Linked DNA regions of Homo sapiens: region 1 is linked to region 2. The links come from fine-mapping of genetic effects on gene expression. A gene starts in region 2. The other region holds a variant in brackets. All regions are shown on one strand. Distances are from middle to middle. Region 1 overlaps SAMD11 (sterile alpha motif domain containing 11). Region 2 holds the start of PLEKHN1 (pleckstrin homology domain containing N1).

The links. PIP is the estimated chance that this variant, and not a neighbour inherited with it, causes the effect. A credible set is the group of variants that fine-mapping cannot tell apart.
Region 1: its variant is the best candidate, but not a certain one, in a credible set for the expression of PLEKHN1 in adrenal gland (GTEx, PIP 0.76).

What each region holds. Positions count from the first base shown.
Region 1 is chr1:935,585-943,584 of GRCh38, reverse strand. SAMD11 (sterile alpha motif domain containing 11) reads right to left here. Exons shown (of 14, transcript NM_001385641.1): 5 at 7,689-7,813; 6 at 4,456-4,545; 7 at 4,173-4,310; 8 at 2,279-2,441; 9 at 1,334-1,449; 10 at 1,097-1,175; 11 at 527-1,026; 12 at 208-332. Among named protein-coding and RNA genes, the nearest start is that of SAMD11, 16 kb to the right of the region's middle. RefSeq lists enhancers at 230-369, 4,939-5,650 and silencers at 1,602-1,801, 1,872-1,941, 5,163-5,212. The variant AGGTCGGCGTCCACTGGCT/T (reference allele first, on the strand shown) is at 3,788.
Region 2 is chr1:962,567-977,918 of GRCh38, reverse strand. PLEKHN1 (pleckstrin homology domain containing N1) reads right to left here and starts at 11,437. Exons shown (of 16, transcript NM_032129.3): 1 at 11,305-11,437; 2 at 11,116-11,215; 3 at 7,496-7,642; 4 at 7,318-7,398; 5 at 7,161-7,233; 6 at 6,913-7,040; 7 at 6,711-6,806; 8 at 6,515-6,595; 9 at 5,769-5,844; 10 at 5,495-5,631; 11 at 4,909-5,058; 12 at 4,593-4,733; 13 at 4,279-4,419; 14 at 3,868-4,086; 2 more. The coding sequence starts at 11,387. The coding sequence ends at 3,344. It overlaps KLHL17 (kelch like family member 17), which reads right to left. Exons shown (of 12, transcript NM_198317.3): 6 at 15,002-15,215; 7 at 14,666-14,810; 8 at 14,415-14,582; 9 at 13,911-13,999; 10 at 13,739-13,812; 11 at 13,389-13,570; 12 at 12,200-12,956. The coding sequence ends at 12,728. It overlaps PERM1 (PPARGC1 and ESRR induced regulator, muscle 1), which reads left to right. Exons shown (of 4, transcript NM_001394713.1): 3 at 1,295-1,420; 4 at 1,650-2,721. The coding sequence ends at 1,747. RefSeq lists silencers at 10,796-10,955, 11,226-11,545.

The DNA of each region.
Region 1 (8,000 bases), 31 kb after region 2:
CTGTTGGGTTTGAGTGTCAGGCAGAAAACACCTGGCAAAAAAAAAAAAAAAAAAAAAAGGTGGGGTGCACAGTCCAGTCCCTGCTGCGCACTGCTTTTGGGGAGGGAGAGGGCGTTGGGGAATGGCCCTACCCCACCATCCTTTCCAGGGAGGTAGTGACTGCCAGCCAGCTCCAGCCCCGCCCCAGGAACTGGGGCCCCCCCTTACCCGAGTGTACTCTCCACAGCCAGACAGGCCCCCCACGAAGCTGCAGACGTCATCCACGGTCCACTTGGTGACGTCCTCAGGGGCTGGGGCCTCCTCCCCATCCATGGAGAGTCCCCCTACCGCGCCTGAGTTGTGGGGCGTGTTACTAGGGCTCTGGCTGGCTTTCCCATACCCGCCCGTCTCCTGACCGTCGTGTGCCCCAATTGCTGAGGTGGGGGATGGGTGCCTAAGGGGAATTTTTCCTCCCCCCAAGACCCTTCCACAGGCGGCCTGCCAGTCCTGTGCCCTCTGGAAGGATCTAGAGTGTGGGGGTGCCCACCTGTGTGGAAGTAGGGGCTGACGGCATAAGGGAAGCCCAGGGGCAGTGTGGACCCTGGGAAAAGCCCCTTCCCCTCGGCGCCGGCCCCTCCAGCTGGAGCTTGGCCCGGAGTGGGCCCCCTGCACCCAACAGCTGCCGTCTCGGGGTCCTCTCCGTCCGAGTCTTTGGGGGGCTCGTCTTCCGAGCCATCTTGTGCCCAGAGCCTAGCCCCCGTCATCTCCTTGGACTCGCTGGGCCGCGCTGAGGCAGGGCCGGGACCCCCCTTCCGGGGGGCTCGCCGGGCAGAGTCCCGGGACGGGGTGGGGGGTCCGGAGCCCGGGGGCCCCTGGGGGGGCAGGGCCAGCAGTGGCGCCGCGCCGTGGTTCAGCACCAGCAGGGCCCCGCGCCGCTGCAGCTCCTCGGCGCCGTCGTTGGGGCGCAGGGCGGTCTCGGGCGCCAGCAGCTGTGGGCGCGCGCTCTCCAGCTCCTTCTGCCGCAGGAGGTCGGCGGGCAGCTCCAGCCTGGGCCGGGGGCAGACGCGGGTCAGCCGCCTCCCGGGCCGCGCGGCCCCGCCCGCCTCCCCGCACCTACCGGGCCAGGTTCTGCTTCCGCAGGAGCTCCTGCTGCCAGGCGAACATCTCCGCCTGCGCGGGGGGCAGGAAGCCGTAGCCTGGTGGGGAGGGGGACAACGCGGGGTCGGGGGGTCCGAGGCGGTCCGAGCCGGCCCTTTGCAATCCCCTACCCGGTCCGTCTCGGCTCCGACAGGGGCAGGGCCGGGTCCGCGAGCCTCCACGCGGGCTCCCAGGGGATGCGCACCCGCCTCCTCACCTGGGGTCTGGCACAGAGCCGAGGGCACCCCCAGGAAGGGGGGCCTGAGATGGGGGCCCAGGGCGACGTGAGGGGCATTCTGCGGCGACAGCAAGGGGGGCGGCTGAGGCAGCTCCCTGTGGACGGCAGCGCAATGAGCGGCGTCCCCCCCGCCCCCGTTCCCGTAAAGGCCCCGGCGCCCCTCCCCCGCCGCCTCCGCTAATTGCCGGCCCCGCGGGCGGTCGATGCGCAGCTCGTTACGGCCCCAGGTCGCGCGCCATCCCCGCCCCCGCCGGCGGCGCCAATTAATCTCGGCGGCGGCGCGGAGGCGCTGACCCGGCGGGCGGCGACGGCTGCAGCGGTAATTACTGCGCGGGGCGCCGGCCCCGCCTGCTCCCCTCCCCTGCGGACCCGAGCGGCGGGGGAAGCGGGGGCGTCATTAGCCGCAATCCGGGCGGCGGTGGAGGCAGCTGCAGACGCCGGGCTCAGCGGCCGGGCAGGGACTCGGGCCTCAGGCGGCCCCTCCCTTCTCCAGGCGCCCCGCCCCGCCTCGTGTCCTGGACCCGAGAAACCCGGGTCTGTGCCGGAGGCCTTGTCTGTGCCGGGAACAGATCCGGCGCCGGCGTCTACATTTGAGCGCCAGCCAGGACCCCCCCTCCGCCTCCAGCTCTGAGTCCTCTGGCCGACCCCTCCCGACTGACCCCGGGGTTCCAGACTTGGAGCTCTCCCCTTCTCTGGCTTCTCCTCCAGGGAACCCCCTGATGGGCCTCAGCCTCCCTCACGCACCCCAGTGGCGCCCTCAACACTGCAGCCCAGATCGGTGTCACCCCCGAAACGCTCTGCCCGGACCCGAACCTAGAGCTGAACACAGTGCTTGGCACTCTCGGGGCGCGTGCTGGTGGCTGAGAGCGCGGGGGTGCGGGCGGCACCCCAGAAACAAGCAGAGAACGGCAGCCACCCCAGTACCTCTCCGAGAAGGACGGGGCGGCAGCTGGGGCGGCGCCCTCCCGGTGCTGAGCCAGGCCCTGCTTCCGACGCTGACCTGCCGTGGAGGAGGGCAGGTGGGCTTCCAGGCCACTGGGGCCCCTCAGAGCTGCAGCCGCCACCTCCTGCCGGACCCTCAGGAGATCTGGGTGGGGGACAACAGCAGTGATCCCCCCGGCTATGCGCCCTCATCCTCCCCAGCCCGCGTCCTGGCGTAGAACACTGAGGTGGGGAACTGACCACACCACTCGGCCGTGCTCGGCCCCTGGGCTGGTCTCGGGCACGGGGCAGGAGGATGGGCGGCCACAGGGCCGAGACGGCAGACAAGATGCTGGGCGAGGAAGTGTCGGGAAAAGCTCTTCCCCGAAGGGGAGCCGGGTGCCTGGAGGCTTCCGGCCTGAGAGGCGGCTGAGCCTTGCGGGGAGGGGGCTGTGCAGACGTCCCGAGGCCACAGAGCCTGCGGGGCAGCGAGAGAGTCCAGAAGTGCCAGCCAGGGGCTGACCGCCCAGGGGACCCCCTCTTCGGTGGGAGGCAAGAAAATCTGAGGTCCCCATAGTAGACGCGGCTGGCCAAAGCTTGTCACAAAGGCAAGGCAGCGCCCGCGCACGCACGCCACACTAGCACAGGGGTCGCCCAGTCCCGGCTGCGCAGGGTCACTGTCCCGCGTGGCCACACTCGCCCCAATGCGCACGCAGCGCCCGCGTCTAAGGCGCCGCGTCCCAGGTCTCTCGGCCTCTCCCTCCCGCCCGGGCCTCCCGAGTCCCCGCAGCCCCCACTATGCAGGCTCCGCCAGCTCCACCGCCGCCTCTGTTTATAAATTAATTACCCGAAAGCGGAGGTGGGTCCCGCCCCGGGCCGGGTGCCAGCCCGCAGAGCCCAGCCGGCGCGGCCGCCCGCATCGATCCCAGCGGGGCCCAGCGCCCCCGCGCTAGCGGCCGGGTTAGTTACAGGGTTATTTACGGCCGGCTCCGCGGCGGGGCGGGGGGGGGGGGCGGCGGCGCGGCCTGATTGACAGCGCGCTCCCCGGCGGCCGGCGCCCCTCCCCCGCGCGGCCAGCAGAGCGGCCCCAGGCAGAGCAGGGAAAGCAATTAAAAAGGAGGATTTTTACATTATTAACATTTGGTGAATTATTCAGGCTCTTGGTGCCTGAGCTGCCCTGGGGGACGGTGCCTGGTGTGAGGAATCCTGCCTCCTTTCCCGGCGCCCCCACCCACCTCTAGCCCGAAAAGCCAAGCTCCCCTGCCAGGCGGGCGGCTGGGGCCTGGGAGGCTGAGTGCAGCGGGCAGGGGGTCCGAGTGCATCCCGGAGGGACCCCTGGAGAACGTCCTGAGGTGGGGTGGACAGGGTCAGGGCCGACCCGGGGGAAGGGGCAGCCCCTCCAGCTGGCGTCTCTTCAGCACCTGGGGAGTCCTGGTGGCCAAGTGCCCACTGCACCCAGCCCGGCCTTTCTGCTCACTGCCCCTCCCCAGGCTCCTGGGGCAGGCGTCTGGC[AGGTCGGCGTCCACTGGCT/T]GCATAGACGACTCACAGACCACAGGGTCCAGGAGCTTGCTCTCCTCGGGGGGTGCTGCTGACATGCCCACTGCCCACCCTCACCTGGGTCCACCCCAGACTCCATTTCTCTCTATATAAAATGTGAGCTAGTCATGACCCTGGGGACCTAGGGGACATGGAGGTGTGGCCCGCCCCAGGGGGCATGGGGCAGGACGTGTGGCAGAGGGACCTGCATCCAGCCTGGCCTTGGTGTCAGCAGGGCCTCAGCAACAGGAATGGCCGAGTACATGTGGCTGGGGAGGTGATGAGGGGAGATCATGCCAGGGTGGGTCCTCACCGTGGCTGGGGAGGTGATGAGGGGGATCATGCCAGGGTGGGTCCTCACCGTGGCTGGGGAGGCCCAGGTGGTAGAGGCGCTGAGGGTCCTCAAAGGTGCTGGCCTCGCTCAGTGCTGACACAAGCCGGCGGTAATGGTCCTCCGGGGCCATGCTGGGCCCCAGCTCCCGCGGCAGCAGCAGCGCCTCTGCTGGGGAGGACCCGGGGTGAGAGGTTTCTCCAGGCACTGCCGAGGACCACGCCCCTCTAGAGTGCCTGCTCGAGGTCCAGGGGACCCTCAGGGACTGCCCCCTCCCCTGGTGACCTGTCTCTCGTCCCAGCCACGCTCTTACCTTGAGGCGATTCGCTTCGTGCCCTCTTCTCTGAAAAGCAGTCGCTGCTGATACGGGGGGAGCGGCCCAGCCTCTTGCCCAACAGGTCACCTGCGGGAGGGTAGTGAGTGCCCACCTGCATCTCAAGGAATGGAAGGGGAACCCAGCCCCTGCTCCAGCTCAGCCTGGACCGCACCCACCATCTCTCAGGGGGCCCTTGGTCCTGGTGAGTACAGGCCTTGCCCAGCCCTGGCAGCCCCAGCCTTCAGCGCAGAGGACATCACGCCTGGCTGTGGCGGGACAGGGGCACAGGGGAGCTCTGACACTGGCCCTGGTGCGTGTGTGCAGAAGAGATCCACAGCAGGCACCCAGCTGCCCCACCCGCCATCTAGCCTCTTGTGCAAGTTAACGAGCCCCCCTCTCATCCCCCTAGAGGAGAATAAAAAGCTTTTGGTTTGACCAGGCACCACCTTCCCCTCCTGGACAGGAGTGAGGGCGGGCTGTGCAGGGTCACATGCCAGCGTGGGGTGAGACAAGCCGGGAAGGACCTCACACCTGACCTCTTGCTGCTCTGTGAGTCACTGGGCTGTGGGCCCCCCAGGCCGCCTCGAGGCGCCTCCACTCCCAGGCCTCCTACTTGGTCATACCCATCCCTGCCCCCAGAAGGCCCACGTCCTCCTCTCTGGCCCAGTCCTGCCTGAGCTAGCACCCTGGCGTGGCTGTCATGCCCTTGTCCACCAGCCCAGCCAGGCTCTGGGCTTCTGGGGTGCACCTCCCAGTAGCTTCACCCACCTCCTCAGCCACGAGGCCAGCCCAGCCCTAGCCCCAAACACAGCCCAGCAGGTGGCAGAGGGGAGGCCCAGGCCAGGTCCAGCTTCAGCCCCAAACACAGCCCAGCAGGTGGCAGAGGGGAGGCCCAGGCCAGGCCCAGCTCACTCTCCTGAGGTCCTCCCTTGGGTCCTGCCGACCGCACCCATTCCAGACCACACCATCCATGTACCCATCTCCGACCCACCCCGAGCTCCTCCGAAGCCCCTGACTCCACGCCCTGGGGGTCTCCCAGGCCAGCCAGTGCCTCCGACTCTGGCCCTTCCTCATCCTCATGAGGGCTCTAGCTGGGTGGAGTGAGGGGCCACTCCCCTGTGACCCAAGACCTCCATGAGGCCTAGGCAGTGGGGCTCCCAAGCCCGTCCCCCCACAAGCCCTGCCGTCAGCTCCAGGCCTAATTCCTTTTTCTTATTCCCTTAATCTGTCATTTTTATCAGGCTGGGGAAGTGCGGCGGCCACACCGATCAATCCCACATTACAGCTGACAGAGTGGTGCTAATAACTTATTGATCCTGGCCCGGCTGCTGTCAGGCCCGGCCCCAGAGAGAGGGTCAGTCCCACGGTCTGGTCCAGGGTCCCCACCTCGGTGACAGATCGGGTGGCTGGGCCCGGCGGGCGGCGGGGGGCACCTGGCCACACACGGATCCAGGCACCACTGCTCAGGCCCCTGAGAAGCCATCGTCTCCCCCACAGCCTCCCGTGCCAGAGCTCGGTGGGCTGGGAGGGGGTGGGCCAAGGCTGGGGGAACCTGGCTCTTTTCCACACCTGCCACCTGGCCCACCATGCACATGCCCTCAGGGTTAGCAAGGCCTCTCACCTCCTGGCAATCACTTTTCCATTGTACACAGTGGAAACTACCCTCTCCGTTCTGTGGGGGGCTAAGGCCTCCTCCTAGCCTGGGGGAGGTGACTGGGTGGGGGGGGGGGCAGGTGGAAGGGGGCCTGCAATGAGACCGCAGGAAGGCCGATGAGGCCATGCTCACTCCTCACTCATGGACCCCAGCGGGTCTCACAGAGGCAGATGCAGGACCTGCTCTGAGTCCCTCACAGCCCAGGGCCCAGGGAGGTGCGGCTTAGCGGGAGGGCCCGGGCTGGGAACAGGATGGATGTGTGGTTCCTGGGGTCACAGGAAGGGAGAAGAGGTGAACGCCCCCCAGGGTGAATGCCCCTCCAAGAGGAGGCTCCGGGGAGCGGGCCAGACCCTGACACGGAGTGCGTATGGGAGACCTGGACACGGGTCCAGGACACGTGAGGCCCCGTAGAGCCTGTGAGCCCGGAAGTGCACGAACACGTCCTGACTCCATGGGTGAGAGCTGCCGGGCAACCCCCATCACGTGCACCCCACAGGACCCCAGACACAGACATGCCGGCACACGCACACGCGTGTACCTGAGGAGGTCTCCCTGTGTGAAGGCACAGGGGAGGGCCTGCTGGCTCAGAATATCTCAATCATTGTGGGGCTCCCTCCGCTCTGCTGGATCGATGGGGCAATTAGATTTTATCAACCGCCTCTCAGCTGTCTCCAACGCGGCATCAGAAGCTGCCCCCACCCAGCCCCACAAGGGCCTTCCTAGGTGCACGAGGACGCGGATGGGGGCCATGGATGGGGGACACAGATGGGGGTGGGCCTCCCCCACCCCTCCTTCCCAAGAGATGCAGGCCCTGCTGGGAACACCCCTGCCTGGGGTCCACAGGGCCTCGGGGCGCCCCCGCCTCCTTTCACGGCCTGCCCTGGGGCTGAGGCTCTGCTGTGCCCCTCTCTACAGCAGTGCCCTCTGAGGGGGGCCTGGTCCCCCCACAACTGTGACCAGGCAGCAGCACCTCCCTCAGGCGCCGGATCCCTTCCCTCCCGAGAACCCCATCCTTCCCGGAGCCCTAGAAGGCGGGACCGACCGGGGACCCCCTCCGTCCAGGAGCCCTAGGAGGCGGGACCGGGGACCCCTTCCGTCCAGGAGCCCTAGGAGGCGGGACCGGGGACCCCTTCCGTCCAGGAGCCCTAGGAGGCGGGACCGGGGACCCCCTCCGTCCAGGAGCCCTAGGAGGCGGGACCGGGGACCCCTTCCGTCCAGGAGCCCTAGGAGGCGGGACCAGTCATGCGTGCGCTGCGGGAGTGCGTGCGTTCCTCCAGGGTGTGCGTTTCTGAACCTCTGAGGCCACGCCTACGTCTGCCCTGTGGAAAGGGGGTGGCAGGGCCCCGGCTACTCCAAGCCCACCCCAGCGGCAGCCACAGCGGAGCCACCGCCTCTGCCTCCTGTCTGCCCCGCTGGCTGGGATTAACACAATTACCATCCCATGCAGCCCCTGGGGGACAGGCCGCTCCTCCTGCCTCTCTGGCTGCCTGCCAAGGCTGCTGGTGCTGAGTGGAGACGCCACCGTCCTCTGGCCCCACAGCCCCGACCCCGCCCTCAGGCCCCCTGTGCTCCTCACCGGCGGGTCGCAGGCCAATCTCCAGGCTGCCTCTCTGGAATTCACAGCGGCTCTGATGCTCGGGCATAACGAGGTGGCGGCTGCGGTGGACGCTGGATATGAGGGTGGGAAGGTTGCCGTCCTGGCTGCAGAACGAGACCGGGAAAAGCTGACCCCGTGGGCAGCTGCGAGGCTGGAGCCCAGCCTGGGCACAGGGAGTGCCTAGCTCTGTGTGTGAGCGTGGGGATGACCTCTGAGTGCCACGTTGCTGTGCCCACGCCTCGGCATGTGGCCCGTGACGCCACTGTGTGCACACCCACGCAGCACCCGAGT
Region 2 (15,352 bases):
GTTCCCGGGGTTGCGGGGGGAGTGGGAGGCGGTTCCCGGGGTTGGGGGTGGTGGGAGGCAGTTCCCGGGGTTGGGGGGATTGGGAGGCGGTTCCCGGGGTTGGTGGGGGTGGGAGGCAGTTCCCGGGGTTGGGGGGATTGGGAGGCGGTTCCCGGGGTTGGTGGGGGTGGGAGGCGGTTCCCGGGGTTGGTCGGTGGGGGCAGGCGGTTCCCGGGGTTGCGGGGGGAGCGGGAGGCGGTTCCCGGGGTTGGTGGGGGGAGCGGGAGGCGGTTCCCGGGGTTGGTGGGGGGAGCGGGAGGCGGTTCCCGGGGTTGGTGGGGGGAGCGGGAGGCGGTTCCCGGGGTTGGTGGGGGGAGCGGGAGGCGGTTCCCGGGGTTGGTGGGGGGAGCGGGAGGCGGTTCCCGGGGTTGGTGGGGGGAGCGGGAGGCGGTTCCCGGGGTTGGTGGGGGGAGCGGGAGGCGGTTCCCGGGGTTGGTGGGGGGAGCGGGAGGCGGTTCCCGGGGTTGGTGGGGGGAGCGGGAGGCGGTTCCCGGGGTTGGTGGGGGGAGCGGGAGGCGGTTCCCGGGGTTGGTGGGGGGAGCGGGAGGCGGTTCCCGGGGTTGCGGGGGGAGTGGGAGGCGGTTCCCGGGGTTGGTCGGTGGGGGCAGGCGGTTCCCGGGGTTGGCGGGGTGGTGGGAGGCGGTTCCCGGGGTTGGTGGGGGGAGCGGGAGGCGGTTCCCGGGGTTGGTGGGGGGAGCGGGAGGCGGTTCCCGGGGTTGGTGGGGGGAGCGGGAGGCGGTTCCCGGGGTTGGTGGGGGGAGCGGGAGGCGGTTCCCGGGGTTGCGGGGGGAGCGGGAGGCGGTTCCCGGGGTTGGTGGGGGGAGCGGGAGGCGGTTCCCGGGGTTGGTGGGGGGAGCGGGAGGCGGTTCCCGGGGTTGCGGGGGGAGTGGGAGGCGGTTCCCGGGGTTGCGGGGGGAGTGGGAGGCGGTTCCCGGGGTTGGCGGGGGGAGTGGGAGGCGGTTCCCGGGGTTGGCGGGGGGAGTGGGAGGCGGTTCCCGGGGTTGGCGGGGGGAGTGGGAGGCGGTTCCCGGGGTTGGCGGGGGGAGTGGGAGGCGGTTCCCGGGGTTGGCGGGGGGAGTGGGAGGCGGTTCCCGGGGTTGGCGGGGGGAGTGGGAGGCGGTTCCCGGGGTTGGCGGGGGGAGTGGGAGGCGGTTCCCGGGGTTGGTGGGGGTGGGGGCAGGCGGTTCCCGGGGCGGGCGTGTGCGGGGCCATCTCTGAGTGCAGCCGTGGGGCTGAAGGTGAGCTTCTGTCCTAGGGGAGCTCCGGGGGCCTGTCCCATCATTTGCCTTCAGCCAGAATGACATGTGCCTGGTGTTTGTAGCTTTTGCCACCTGGGCTGTGAGGACGTCAGATCCGCATACCCCAGACGCCTGGAAAACAGGTTTGGGTGCCTGGGGGCAGAGGGAGCTGCGCCTAGAAGCCAGACCGAGGGGCGCTGGCAGGACGAGGGGTGCACGGGGGCCCCGGGGCTCACCCCTGACCTGCTCCCCCCAGGCTGAGCTGCGGCCCTGGCCGCACCGACCTTGCCCGCCCTTTGAGGGCTGGGTCTTGCGGGCAGACGGTGCCGACAGCCAGGCTGGCCCTCAGAAGAGCCTGTGCTTCTCTTGCAGCCTTGCTGGCCAACGTCGGCACCATCTCTGCCATCCGCTACTTCCGCCGGCAGGTGGGGCAAGGGCGCCGCAGCCACAGCCCCAGCCCCAGCTCCTAGGAGCCAGGCCCGGGCCAGGGAGATGCAGGATGAGGAGACGACCACAGGCGCCCAGGGCAGGACGAGGTGCCGCCCTCGCCCGGGCCCTCTGACCCCTCTCTTCTACCGCGTCCAGGAGGGGGGCGTGTCCTGGTGCTGCTCCCTCCGACTCACCTGAGGATCCAGCCAGTGACCACGGCCACTCCCCACGCCTGGGAGGGAGGTGCTAAAGTCTGGGTGGGTGGAGGGCAGGCAGGTGGCTGGGTAGGAGGGTGGCCAGATTCACAGATGAGAACACAGGGCATTCGGTTAATTTCAGACAGGCAATAGTGGGGAGGTCATTTTACTAAGAAGTTGTTGTTTATCTGAAATCAAATGCAACCGCACCCTGCGTTTCTTCTGGGGTGCAGGGGGAGCTGAGTGGCAGGACAGGACTTGGACCTCGGAGGGGTCTGAGCAGCAAGACACTCCGGCTGGAGCTCTGGGCAGAGGCAGGGGAGAGGACACAGGGTGGCCTCAAAGAGGGGATGGGCAGCCTCCTCACAGGTGGGCTGGGCTGGCAAGGGCTCCAAGGCCCATCACTCTTGATCCTCAAAGGACTGTGGCCAAGGCCTCTGCGGGCTCTGGCCTGAGACAGCGAAGGCTCTGCCTGCCCCTCCCCAGTGCAGCAGCCCCTGCAGGGTGGGGGTCTGTGGCAGAGCCGCGAGCCCCTCCCCGGGAGCCCTGGGTGCAGGTGCAGAGGGAGAATTCGGTGGCCTCAGATGGAGGGCTGGGCTCCTGGGGTTGTCCCGGGGGCTCCTGTGGGGCAGCTGGGGACCCACAGCCAAGAGGAGTCAGAGATGAGGTGGGAAGGTCGGTGAGGGGCCCGAGGTGGCAGAGGAAGGGGGCTGCCTGGCTGGGTGCTGGGTGGGGGTCCTCAAGACTGTGGGAGACCCTGGCTGCTGAGCAGAGAACACATGGATGCAGCACCAATAAAATTCTATCTTTTCTTTTTCTTTCTTCCTTTTCTTATTCTCTCTCTCTCTTTCCTTCTCTTCTCTTCTCTCTTCTCTTCTTTTCTCTCTTCTCCTCTCTCTCTTCTCTCTTTTTTCTTTCTCGTCCGGTGGTGTCAACGTCTCCCGTGCTGCCCTGTGGTGCGCGCCAGGCCACACAAGGACCCACCCACCCTCCTCCTCGGGGCACCCTGGCTTGTGCTCCTCACACCTTGCTGACCTGTGACCCTCATGCCCTCTGACCTCACATACTCTGACCCTGCTGACCTTTCTCTGTCCTCCGACCTTCACGCCCGTGCTGCCCTCCCACTCCCAGCGAGTCTCCTCCCTGACTCCTGGCGGGCTGAGCTGAGGGCCGACCCTGTGGACGGCCAGGACCTCCCTGACCTGTGACCCAGCCTCGCTGGCCAGGGCATCCTTTGGATGGGGCCCCTCCCACCCTTCCCTGCCCCAGCTGCTGGCACCAAGGAACAGGAGCTGAGGGACGGGCTCTGAACTCAGGGCCCCAGAGACTCCCCCCATCACACTGGGTTCAGACCCTGACTTGTAATTTGAAGTGGGTTAGAGGGGCAGGTACCCTGGAGCTTGGCGAGGGTGGTCCTGAGAACCCACCTCACCGCGGCCATCAGATCCACTGCACAAGCCCCCCACTGGCCTCAGGCCCTCCAAGCTGGGGGCACTTCTGGTGGGAGGAAGACAAAGTCTCGTCCCAGAGGTGGTCGTAGCCGGGGTCCCGGCTCCTCCTGGGGGACCGACCATCTGGTAGGGAAGGCAGAGATGTGTCAGCCTGTGGGAGGCAACAGGCACTCACCTCAGGAGGCAGGATCCTTACTCACCTGTCAGAGGCAGCCAGGGTTCGGGCGAACCTTCCCTGGCAGAGGAGACCTGGAACCCCAAACCGCAAGTCTGAGAGCCGGGCACAGCCCCAGGCAGGGAGCTTGGAGGCGGCCTGTCACTGTGCAGCCCCCCATGTCCCCCTGCTCTCCCTCCCCAGTCCCATCTCCCCAACTCCCTACTGGCCCCCCTGGCCTCCATCTGCCCCCGTCCTCCTGTTTCCCTCCCTGCTCCCTCAGAGTCCCAAGAGGCCCCACACCAGACCCCCGGCCAGCCCGGAGCCCGGGGCACACGGGCGTGGGGGCTGCTACTCACAAGCTGAGGGGCGTCTGGGGGCTGCGGCCCCCCATCCTTGGCTGAGCCCCGGTGTCTCTGAGCGGCTCTGGACTGCAGGGCTCCCTTCTTGGAGAGCAAGTAGGGGCCAGCGGGGCCGGAGGAGCAGGAGCGAGGGTCAGAGGCAGGCACAGACACAGGCACCGAGGGGAGTGGGCTCGAGGGCGTGGGTCCACGTGCACTCTGCATGGCACTGAGGAACTGCAGGGAGAGCCAGGGCTGGGGCCTGGGTGGCAGCCAGGGGCCCCCAGAACCTCAACCTCCCATCAGAGCCTGAACAGACCTCAGGCTTGGGGCAGCCCCAGACCCCAGGGTGAGACGCACGGTCTAGACCTCCCCAGCCTCAGGCTGCAGGCACCTCCCACCCTTTCTGTCACCCAGCAGGGGCCTGACCTCCTCCAGGCCCCGGACATCTGTGACCCTGCGGTGGGAGGTGGCGGGTGGTGTGTAGGGGTCGGCATAGAGGGGCGAGTGTGATGTTTCCGAAGTGTGGTCAGGGGCATCTGGGCTGCTCTCCAGGCTCAGCCTGTGCAGCTGCAGGGCAGAGGTGGGAGAAATGGGCTTCTCGGCTAGAAACAGCCTAGGCCACCCCTTCTCTGTGCAAGAGGCCTCTGGGTGGCTCCAGGACAACTGGGCCCAGAGACAGAGACCAGTGGTGCGGAACGGTGGGAACCAGGCCAGGGGCTGTGTGGGTGTGCTGGGCCCACCTGGGTCAGGTCCAGGTGCAGTGGGGTGACAGGGCCGCGGCCCTCTGCCCGGGCCTTGCTCCCGGGTGACCGGCTGCTGCCACTGCGTCTCAGCTCGGTCCTCCGTCGGCCAATGCTGGCACGGTCAGAGTTGGCCTGGTCCTGTGGGGACCACAAACCTTCCAGGAAGAGCCCTTTGGCCCCTCTCCCGTGCAACTCTCTGAGGCTGCAAGGGGCTCCCTCCAGTCTGAGTTCCCCTGAGGAACCAGGGTCCCCAACACACACCTACCCGACAGCCTTCTGCCCCACTTTCGTCTGCCACCCCGTAAGCGCTCACCGGTGTGTGCTGGGAGGAGCAGCCCACGGTGGATGGCACTGAGGACTCAGGCAGGGAGTGGCTGGTGCGGGTGGAGGGGGGCGCCAAGCACCCCGAGTCCCAGCTGGTCTGTCCGCCTGAGGAGAGTGAGCCTCGGCCACTGCCCATAACCTGGATGGGCAGTGAGTGGGGGTGAGTGAGGGCTGGACCCCCTCCCCACCCGCCCCTGCCTGGACCCACCGTGCTGTCCCCCCTTTTATCTTTTTGGGACGAAGTCTTATTCTGTCGCCCAGGCTGCAGTACAGTGGCACGATCTCGGCTCACTGCAACCTCCGCCTCCTGGTCAAGCGATTCTCCTGCCTCAGCCTCCTGAGTAGCTGGGGTTACAGGGATGTACCGCCATGCCCGGCTAATTTTTTTGTATTTTTAATAGAGACAGGGTTTCTCCACGTCGGTCAGGCTGATCTCGAACCCCTGACCTCAAATGATCCGCCCGCCTCAGCCTCCTAAAATGCTGGGATTACAGGCGTGCGCCACCACGCCCGGTCTGCTGCCCCCTTTTTACCACTGCCCAGGACCTGGGCTGTGGGGCCTATTGACCCCTCACCTGCGACCCTGGGAAGCTCTCGGCACCAGGCAGCGGCGGGGCCCCCTCCCTGTGGGTGACAGCGCGAAGGCACAGCAGCCAGTGACCGTAGTCCTCGTAGCTGGCGCACACCACGCGGATGGTGTTGATGAGGGGGCCTGGCATACAGATGCTGTGAGGGGCTGGCGGGGGGGTGCACCCCTCAGCGCCCCCACTAAAGAGTCGGGCGTCCCCCAGGCTCCCGCCCCACCATGGCCTGGCCAGGCGGGAGGCAGAACCAGGGTCAGGGCCCTACCTTCAATCAGGAAGGAGCGGATCTGCTTCTCCTTCTCCTCCAGGTTGATGTGGACGGCACGGAGTGGGAGCTCCCCCTGCGGAGCAGAGATTGAGGGCCAGGCCTTTGTAGGGGCAGCCCCGGGGCCCCGCCTGGCCTCATCCCACCCTCTTGCCCTCCAGAGCTTGGCTGGGTACTTGGAGAGCTGGGCACCGAGGCCACCACCCTGAGGGAGGCCAGTGGGTCCCATGTCTCCTGGGGCTACCACCAACCCTGGCGCGGGGGCCTTCGCCGGCTAGGGGCAGACACACAAAGCCACAGGACTGGCCTCTTGGGGTCCCCAGAGAAGAAGTTGGGCCGGGTGAACCATGGGGAGGGCCCTGTGTTTGTTCCTCAGTGACTGAAGGTTACCGTGAGTGCACACCCCCTTCCCGGAGCCCGCCCTGGAGGACACACGCACACGCACGTGTGCACACACACGCCTCACGGGCAGGCACACACAAGGGAGTCCCCGGGAGGGGCTCTCAGCCCCATGCTGCCCGCCCCAGGGTGACGGTCAAGAACCTCAGGGTGAGAACCTCAGGGCGGGCAGGGGCTCCTCCATGTCACAGCGGAGACCAGACTGACCAGGACCGCGGGCTGGGTGGGCAGGGCCCTGCGCTCTGTCTCAACAAGCCCCGAAATACAGGTTCCTCCTGCATGGCTGCCCCCTCCCACCCCCACACAGCTGCCTCCCTGGGGCGGGCCCACAGTGGGGAGGGGCCCACCTTGAAGCAAAGCCCGTCCAGCTCCTCGGAGAAAATGGCCAAGGACGTTGGGTACAGGACCAAGAGCCGGTCCCACTGCTCCTGGGTGGGTGGGGGTGGGGTCAGGCGATGAGGGAACTGAGCTGCTGTTGCACCGCCCTGCCCACCACCATGCACCCCTCCCATCCCCCTACAGCCCCACGCACCTCCCACCCACCTGTGCGGGCAGGTGCTGCAGCTTGACCCTCGAGGCACAGACAGCACTGCCGCCGGGTTCGTGCCCTGACGCCGTCCGCAGCCGGGTTAGACGGCGCTGCAAAGTCCAGGGGAGTTCGTCTCCGCAGGACCCCTGTGAGGAGGAGGTCAGAGCCGGCTGCGAGGATCAGGGTGGGGAGGGGGGTGGGGTCCCCGGCACTGACCTGTGGGGGTGCCGAGTGGCAGCGCCGCGGCCCCCCGAGGAGGGCCGTCTGCTTCTCCAGGTGGTAAAGCCAGCGGTCCAGCTCGGCCCGGCTGGGGCAGAGCACCAGGAGGGGTGCGGGCAGTGGGCCTGCGGGCAGGGCAGAGAGGGCACACACATACACACACGTGCTCCGCAGCCACAGGGCAGGCCCCTCTCCAAGTCCTGGGTCAGGAGTGCCTCTGGGGGCCCGGGAAGCATCCCAAACACCTGTGATCTGGAAGGCGTGCTCTCGGGACCCCTCGAGCGGGCAGACACTCAGCTCCGTCAGCGGTAACAGCCCCTGCCAGGCACAGGGTAGGAGGAGCTTCAGGGATCCATGGAGGGAAGGGCGGCCATGGCCCCACCCCATTGCCCACCGCCTCACCTGAAATGTGAGTCCTTCCGAGCCGTGGGCCTGGAAGTACAGGTGGGCGGGGAATAGCTCCAGGTAGCAGTCGCTGACATCCTGCGCGGGGAGCAGGGTCGTCAGTGCGGAGTCTGGGGAGCCCCAGGCTGATGGGGATGCTGCACCCTTAGCGTGCTCCACCCAGCCCGGCCCCCACCTGGCTGTGCTGGAACCGCAGCTGGACCTTGGCGTAATGCACAACTTTTCCCAGGTTCCTCACAGGCACCCTCCGCCGCCCCTTCTTGAACACACTCAGGAATGGCTGCTCCAGGTTTTCTCGCTGGTTCTCCAGGTCCAGGATGTCCTAGGAGGAGTAGAGCTCAGGGGAGGGGGCCTCCCCTGGGCCCCCCACCCCCTCCGCTCGCATCCACACAGCTACAGGACTATAGCATGGTCTGCCTGTGCATAGCCACACAACACATATGTGAAGAACAGCCCCCCACAGGCACAGAACCTGTGCACAGCCACACAACACATACGTGAAGAACAGCCCCCCACAGGCACAGAACCTGTGCACAGCCACACAACACATACGTGAAGAACAGCCCCCCACAGGCACAGAACCTGTGCACAGCCACACAACACATACGTGAAGAACAGCCCCCCACAGGCACAGAACCTGCACACTCAGCCTTTCCACAGGAAAACAGTCACGGCAGAATTTACACACACGTGCATACATATATGCATACATGCATATTCGTGTACACGTACACGCACACACACCCGATACGTGCACATGCAGGCAACATGCATGCATCCATATATGCGCACACATACACATGTATAAATGCATACACGCACACATGCATACACACACAATAGACACATACATGCCACACAATACAGACACAGATGCATACACACGGGAACACACATACGCACTTATACACACATGTACACACACGCACACATATGCATGGATACACACGTGCACACATACACAGTTGCACATACACAGATATGCACACACGTGCATACATGCATACATATCCACACGCAAATACACCCATACACATGTATACACATACACACGTGCACATACACACGTGCACACATACACATGCACACCTATACACACATGCACACACATGCATGCACACATGCACACTGCATACATGCATACATTTCCACACACACACAAATACACCAACACACACGTATACATACACCTGTGCATATACACACAGATGTGTGCACACATATACACGTGCAAACACATGCACACATACACACTTGTGCACACACACGCACACACAGACACACTTCCCCACACAGAGCTGCCTGGTCTAGTGGTAGAGATGGTGAGATCTGGACTCAGTGGATTAAACCCATCTTCATTCTTTCCTAAGCTGTGTAACATGGCTTGGGTTATTCAACCTCTGAAGACTTGTTAGAAGAATTTGGGGGTGTCTGGGTAACACTCAAAACCCTCCCACGTCTGCAGTATTGTATGGTAAATGCTTAACACCTGGTTCTACAAAAAACAGACACAGAAACACACCGATGCCCTGATTTGTAACGTTTGCCAATCTCCTCGGTGTCAGTGTCCTCACCGTTGCCCATTTCCAGCCCCCAGCCTGAAATATGTGAGGAGATTTCTGGGGTCGATCCTCTGTGTGTTGGCCGCTCCGTATGCCTCACTCAGGGGACAACGGGGTCCTGGCAGTGCCCCGAGGGGTCTCCCCCGAGGGGTCTCTGTGGCTGCCCCGGCCTCACTGTCTCCTCACATCAGACCCATGCTCTCTGGCTGCTGCATGTTCTGTTCCTGCTTTGGGGACCGCTCAGTCCTGACCCCCCTCCTTACCCGCTTTGCAGCTTTGCTCAGACATTACCTGCTCCAAGAATTCCTTTTCTGAAAGCCTTTCTAAAATTCCAGCCTTCCCTGATCCTCTGCACTCATCCCCTCTGTTTTTCTCCTTAGCACCGACCTGACCCCGCTCACTGGATCTATTGATTTGTCCCGTCGTGTGTCTCTGCCGTGGGAATGGGAGCACTAGCAGAACAGGGGTTGTCTATTCCGTTCACTGCTGTGTCCCCAGAGCCTAAGACAGGGCCTGGGATGTGCTGTGGGTATCACTGCATGTGCTGAGAGGGGAGGGGACTCCACATCCACGCCACATGTAGTCAATCCTGGCACACACAGTCCTCTACAAATGCAGGCTTTGATCACCAGGTTGGAAGTCAGAAAAGGGACGGGTGTGAACCTGGGGCTGGAGACCTCTGTGATCCACAGGCTCAGGGCCAAGTGGGAAGGTGTCCTCCTCCTTCTAGGAGCTGGCGAGAGCTACCTGCAGAGCTGCTGTGCCCTGGCCAAGCTTAGCTGCCCCTGAGCAGGCCCAGGAATGTGAACAGACAGACGCATGGCTTTCCCGGCCTTCTGCCTCTGGGTGGGGCCTCCTGTACCCACACCCAGCGTGGGAACTGATGCCGGGTTGGCACCCATGAAAAATAGGCCACAGACCAGGAAGGGCCACACAGCTGGCCCTGCAGCGCAGCTCAGCCTCGGGGCCCCGGGGAGGACTCAGCTTGGAGCCGTAGTAGAGCCAGCTCACAGCACTGGGTGCAGAGCCCAGGTACAGGGCCGCGGAGCACTGGCTCTAGGACTGGCCCAGAGCTCCTCCCCCAGCCCCATTTCCCGAGGTTCAGCAGGTTGTTGCCTCTGTGGCTACCATGTCCTGGCAAGGGAGGACCACTACGGCCACCCACCACACCTCATAGGACCCCCCAGGGTCACACTGCATGTCCTGGGCCTGGACAGAGGGAGTGGTGTCTGAGATGCAGCCACAGGGACCCCACCCCTAACCCAGCCCGGCTCCCTCTCCCTGCCCACTCCTCTGAGGCAGCGTGGTTTCCGAAACCAGTACTTGTCTGCAGGGAGCCCTGAAACTCTGGAGGTCAGGAGAGGGTATGGCACGAGCTTCCTGCCTGGCGGGGGCATGTTGGCAAAGGGGTCTGCACGGCCATGCCAGCTGCTGGACCCAGGAGTGCAGGGCAGGCGTCCTCTCCCGCAGATGCTCCTAGGGCCTGCACATAGCGGAGCCCACCCATCCAGGCTGCCTGACGGGGGTGCAGTGGGGGTTCCTGTCTGCCCTGAAGCCCAGGTTCCTGGTCCTGTTCCCTCATCCCAGCACCAGACACATCTGAAAGGGGCTGGGATCTACCCTGTGAAGACCCTTAGTCCCACAGGGGCTGGGGGGGGGGTGGGCATGGGGGTGGTCTTCTGCTCCTTTGACGGAGAGGTGGCCTAGTGTGTGCTTGGGAGACACCTCCTTGCTGCATGGCCTTGGCAAGCTGGGAGGAGGCCGGCGCGTGCACAGAGGGATTGCTGTGGACCAGGCGGCCATACCCAGCGGCAACTTCCTGCGGGACACCCAGGGAGAAAGGCCGGTGTAGGTGACCGGCTGGCTCGCTGCTCATCTGAGGCCCCTTACTCTCAAGTGACACTACCTGCCGGCACGACCCCAAGCCCCACTGCAGCGACAGAGACACGTGCGCTGGTCCCCTGCGGGAGGAGGTCCCGGGAGGCCCCGCCCGCGGCCCGCCCCGCCCAGCTCTCTCCCGACTGACTCAGTCCTGCGTCGCGGTTTCGCTCTCCGCTCAGACTTTCGGCCGGATGAGCTCCCCAGGGCGGGGCAGTCAGCGTCGGCTCCTCACCTACCGGGGTCTGAACGCCCCGGGGGCGAGGGGAAGACCCTGAGCTGCACGGACACACGGCACACACGCGCGGGCAGAGCCACGCTCCCAGACCACAGCCACCGTGCACGCCGCGCTCACCGTGCCCGGGATGTAGTGGAAGAGCTTGTTGGCGGCGGCGTCCCCGCTTCGAGCAGCCTCGGGGCCCGGCAGGCCGGCCGACATCCGCGCGCTGTCCTCTCTGGGGACAAGGCAAGGGGTCTCGTGGCTTGGCCCCGGAGCGGGTGGGGGAGCCCTGCGCCCAGGTGGCCGCACCCACGCCCCGCTCACCTGTTTCCCTTCAGCGAGGGCTTTCTGGAGAAGGAGGCCCGGAGCCTCCTGGGGGCCTGAGGGACACAGTGGCTGTTCCCCATGGCCAGAGTCGTACAGGTCGGCAAGTCTGGGTCCCTGTCCACAGCCTCCTGCCCCCGCCTCCCGCGGGCAGGCGGGGCTCCGGGACGTCCCGCCCGGCACCAGGGCCTGGGCGAGGGTGGAGCCTTTCTGGAAGAGGCCTGGCCCCTACCTGAGCCGTGCAGGTCTCTGCCCTGGGCCCTCCACTCGAGAGGCCAGCCTTGGGGCAAGCACCCCTCTGGCCCAGACGAGGCCTCCAGTGTGCAGAGGTACCCCACCTGCTTGTGCTCCGGCTTGGTGAACCCGGGGCGACCTTCCAGGCCCCCCGGGACAACGTGCCCACACATCCTGTTTCCATCTAAACTCTGGCCGGCCCGAGTCACCGGTGACTGCAGGGAGGGCTGAGGCAGGAGTTCCAGCACAGGAGACGGCGGCCAAAGCCACCGCAGCCTCCCCTCCTGCCTGGGCCCCCTCGCCACAGACCCGAGTCAGGGTCCCCAAGGCTTAAGGGGACTCAGGGAGGCCACATGCCCCCTAGACGGCCAAGACAGTCAGCGCACTCGGGGGCAAGGCTGTCCTCCCCAGCCCTAACCCCAGAGCCCACGATGTGGCGGGGACCTCGGCCTCAGTACCCAGCCCAGGCAAACGCCACCCACACTGGGACGCTGGTCCACAGGAACTGCACGGCCCCCACCCTCCCTGGACGCACAGCTCTGCCTTGCAGCTCCCAGATGCCTGCGCATCTCAGGGCACCCCCCCACACCCCTCACCCTGGACCCCAGACAGGACCCAAAGTTGCGCAGCTGCCCCACATGCCAGAGAGAGATGCTCAGCCTGAGGAACCCCAGAAATGTGTTTATTAAGTTGGACTCGTATTGCTGTGTGGGGTCCCAGTGCACGCGTGTGCACCCACTACAAGATCCAGGAAAGATGGCACACGGCAGACGACGACAGGAAGGACAACTGCTCCCCACCCTTCCCGGGACCCCGCCATGTGCAAAATTCGAGCTGGGGTCTGCAGCTGCTTGGAGAGACCCAGGGCCTCTTGCTCCACAGCCTGCAAGGTCTGAGCAGGCAACGGCCCTGGGGCGGTGAGGCCCCCGCCTGGTCACTCCCCGCGCCCCCCATGCAGGCAGTGGAGGGGAGGACACGCAGGAGGACCAGACGCTAAAGGTGTAAACGGGCAGCCGTGGCACTCCTCACCCCTCAATAAATAAGATAAATAACTAAATAAATAAACAACTAAATAAAGACATGAAGGAATGGATGCAGAGACGTGAACGGATGGCGCAGGACGTCCCTGGTGGGGGCCACGGTCCCCTTAAGGCATGTGGGAGGCTGCAGGCCTCTGGTGGTAGGTGGGTCAGAGGCTGGTGGAGGACACGGACAGCGTCGGGGAGGATGGCGGCGGGAAATTGAGCAGCTCCAGCACCGCCACACCCACACTGCTGCGCCGGGTGAACATGCAGGATGCGGCCACCCACTTGTTGGTCCTCGGGTTGTACTTCTCGATGGAGTTGAGGCTGGAGCTACCGTCGTTACCCCCCACGGCGTACAACCATCCGTCCATGGCCACCAGGTCATGCGTGCTCCTGGGGGGAAGGCGGGGTGAGCCCCTGGCTGCAGGAAGGGATGCGGGGGGAGGGGCTGCACCACAAAAAGGGGTGGTGGCGGGACATGCTCGCTGAGGTTGGGAGAACTCCCTTCTCACAGCACATCCCCACTGCGGACCCGCGCCCCCCTCCCGGCAGCACATCCCCACTGCGGACCCGCGCCCCCCTCCCGGCAGCACATCCCCACTGCGGACCCGCGCCCCCCTCCCGGCAGCACATCCCCACTGCGGACCCGCGCCCCCCTCCCGGCAGCACATCCCCACTGCGGACCCGCGCCCCCCTCCCGGCAGCACATCCCCACTGCGGACCCGCGCCCCCCTCCCCGCAGCACATCCCCACTGCGGACGCGCGGACCCCTCCCACAGCCCCACTGCGGACCCGCGCCCCCCTCCCCGCAGCCCCACTGCGGACCTGCGGATATTCATGGGCGCCACGCTTTCCCAGGCTCCAGCCTTTGGACTGTATCTCTCTACCGAGTTGAGGCAGCTGGTGCCGTCGTTGCCCCCTGCCACGTACAGGGCACCCTCCAGCACGGCCACGCCCGCTGAGCTGCGTCGGCTCAGCATGGACGCCACGGGCGACCACACGTTCACCTGGGGGCGAGGGCGTGGGCTGGACGCAGACCCGCCACTGGCATCCCTCCTCTGCCGCAGCCCCGACTCCAGGGTGGGGTGTCAGGAATGGGGGGGATGTGGGTAAACAGAGGGAGGAGGGCCCCGCGGCGCACGGGAGGGGGTGGCCAGGAGGGGTGCACTATGCACCTGGGGCTCATACTTCTCCACAGTGGCCAGGTGTGAGGAGCTGTCGTAGCCGCCCACAGCATACAGGTTCCCATCTGCCGGAAGTCAACACACCCGTGGCACTCCTGCTGGGAGTGGGGTCTCCACGGTGGGGGAAGGTGGGGATGCCCCCCAGGCAGGCCCCATCACCCACCAAGCGTGGCCACTCGCACATAGCGCCTCCGGGTGCTCATGGCAGCGACGGACGTCCACGTTCCGGTCAGGGGGTCGTAGCGTTCAGCACTGTGGGCACCAGGACCGCAGCCACAGCTCAGCAGAGACAGAAAGGCGTCCCGGCCCCAGGACCTGCCCTCCCCAGCGGAATGGCTGAAATCTTACCCTAGGAGTCAAACTCAGACCGCAAAGTCCTACCAGGCAGGGCCCGCTGGTGGGCACAGGACCCTGGCTGCCTGAACAACCCTGGGTGCACACCCACCTGGGCCCAGCCTCTGGACTGGGGGTAAGGACCCGAGAGAGGAAAGGGCACTGGGGCAGCAAAGCCAAGAGTTCAGGCCCAGTGTGGCAGTGGCCTGGGGTGAAACGGCCTCGCGGATCACCTCCTTTAACACCCCATCAGATACGACCCCTGTGATGGTGACACAAACTTGCCTCTTGCAGATGGACTGTACAAAGCCACTGGGGCCCCAACCCCAACTACCTGTTCAGGCAGGAGGCCCCGTCATAGCCGCCGGCCGAGTACAGGAGTCCATGCAAGGCGGCCACACCCAGGCAGCTTCGCCTTGTGCCCATGGACACCTCCGGCTGCCACGTGTTAGTCACGGGGTCGTAGGACTCCACGGTAGCCAGGTCTGAGGTCCCATCATAGCTAGCGGAATTAAGCCACTGCAGGTCAAGACTGGCCTGGCGGGCACGTGCCAGACCCGACCCAAGTCCAGCCTCCAGGCTTACCCGCCCACAGCATAGAGCCGGTTCCCCACCGCAGCCACTCCCACCCGGGCCCGGCGCGTGGACATGGAGGCCACCACGTGCCAGCGGTCGGTGCGCGTGTCGTAGGCCTCACAGTCTCCGTGGATGGCAAACAGGCTCCCGCCGCCTGGGGAGGGCAGGTGGAGACGGGACTCGTGAGTGGATCCCACTGCTGGGCCACACCCCAGGCTCCTGGAGAGGCCCCTGAATGGAGGGGCGGAGGGGCAGGTCAGGACCTGACCGGCACAGGTGGGGTGGGCTTGTGCTGGTGGGGAGTAGAAGGCACAGGGCAAGAGGGAAACGGGCGGGGGGCCATACCCACAGCAAAAAGCACAGGCCCGGCCCCCTCGCAGCGCCGGGGACGTGTGCGGCTGGTGCCTAGGACGCCCCTCTGCTCAGGCAGCAGGTGGAACTTCAGGGCCTCGATGAGGAGGTCCTTGCAGTCAGGGTGGTGCCTCACCAGGCTCTCGGCATCCACGTGGCCCAGCAGGAAGTCGCGGCTCAGCAAGGGCAGCCGCACACACTTCATGAGCTGGGGTGCAGGGAACGCCAAGGTCAGGCGGGACCCTCGGGCACACTGGGCGTCAGGGCTGAGACAACCCCCCAGATGCCCGTACCACCTGTGTGATGGATTCTTCTTCAGACAGGTGGGGGCACCACCCCCACGGA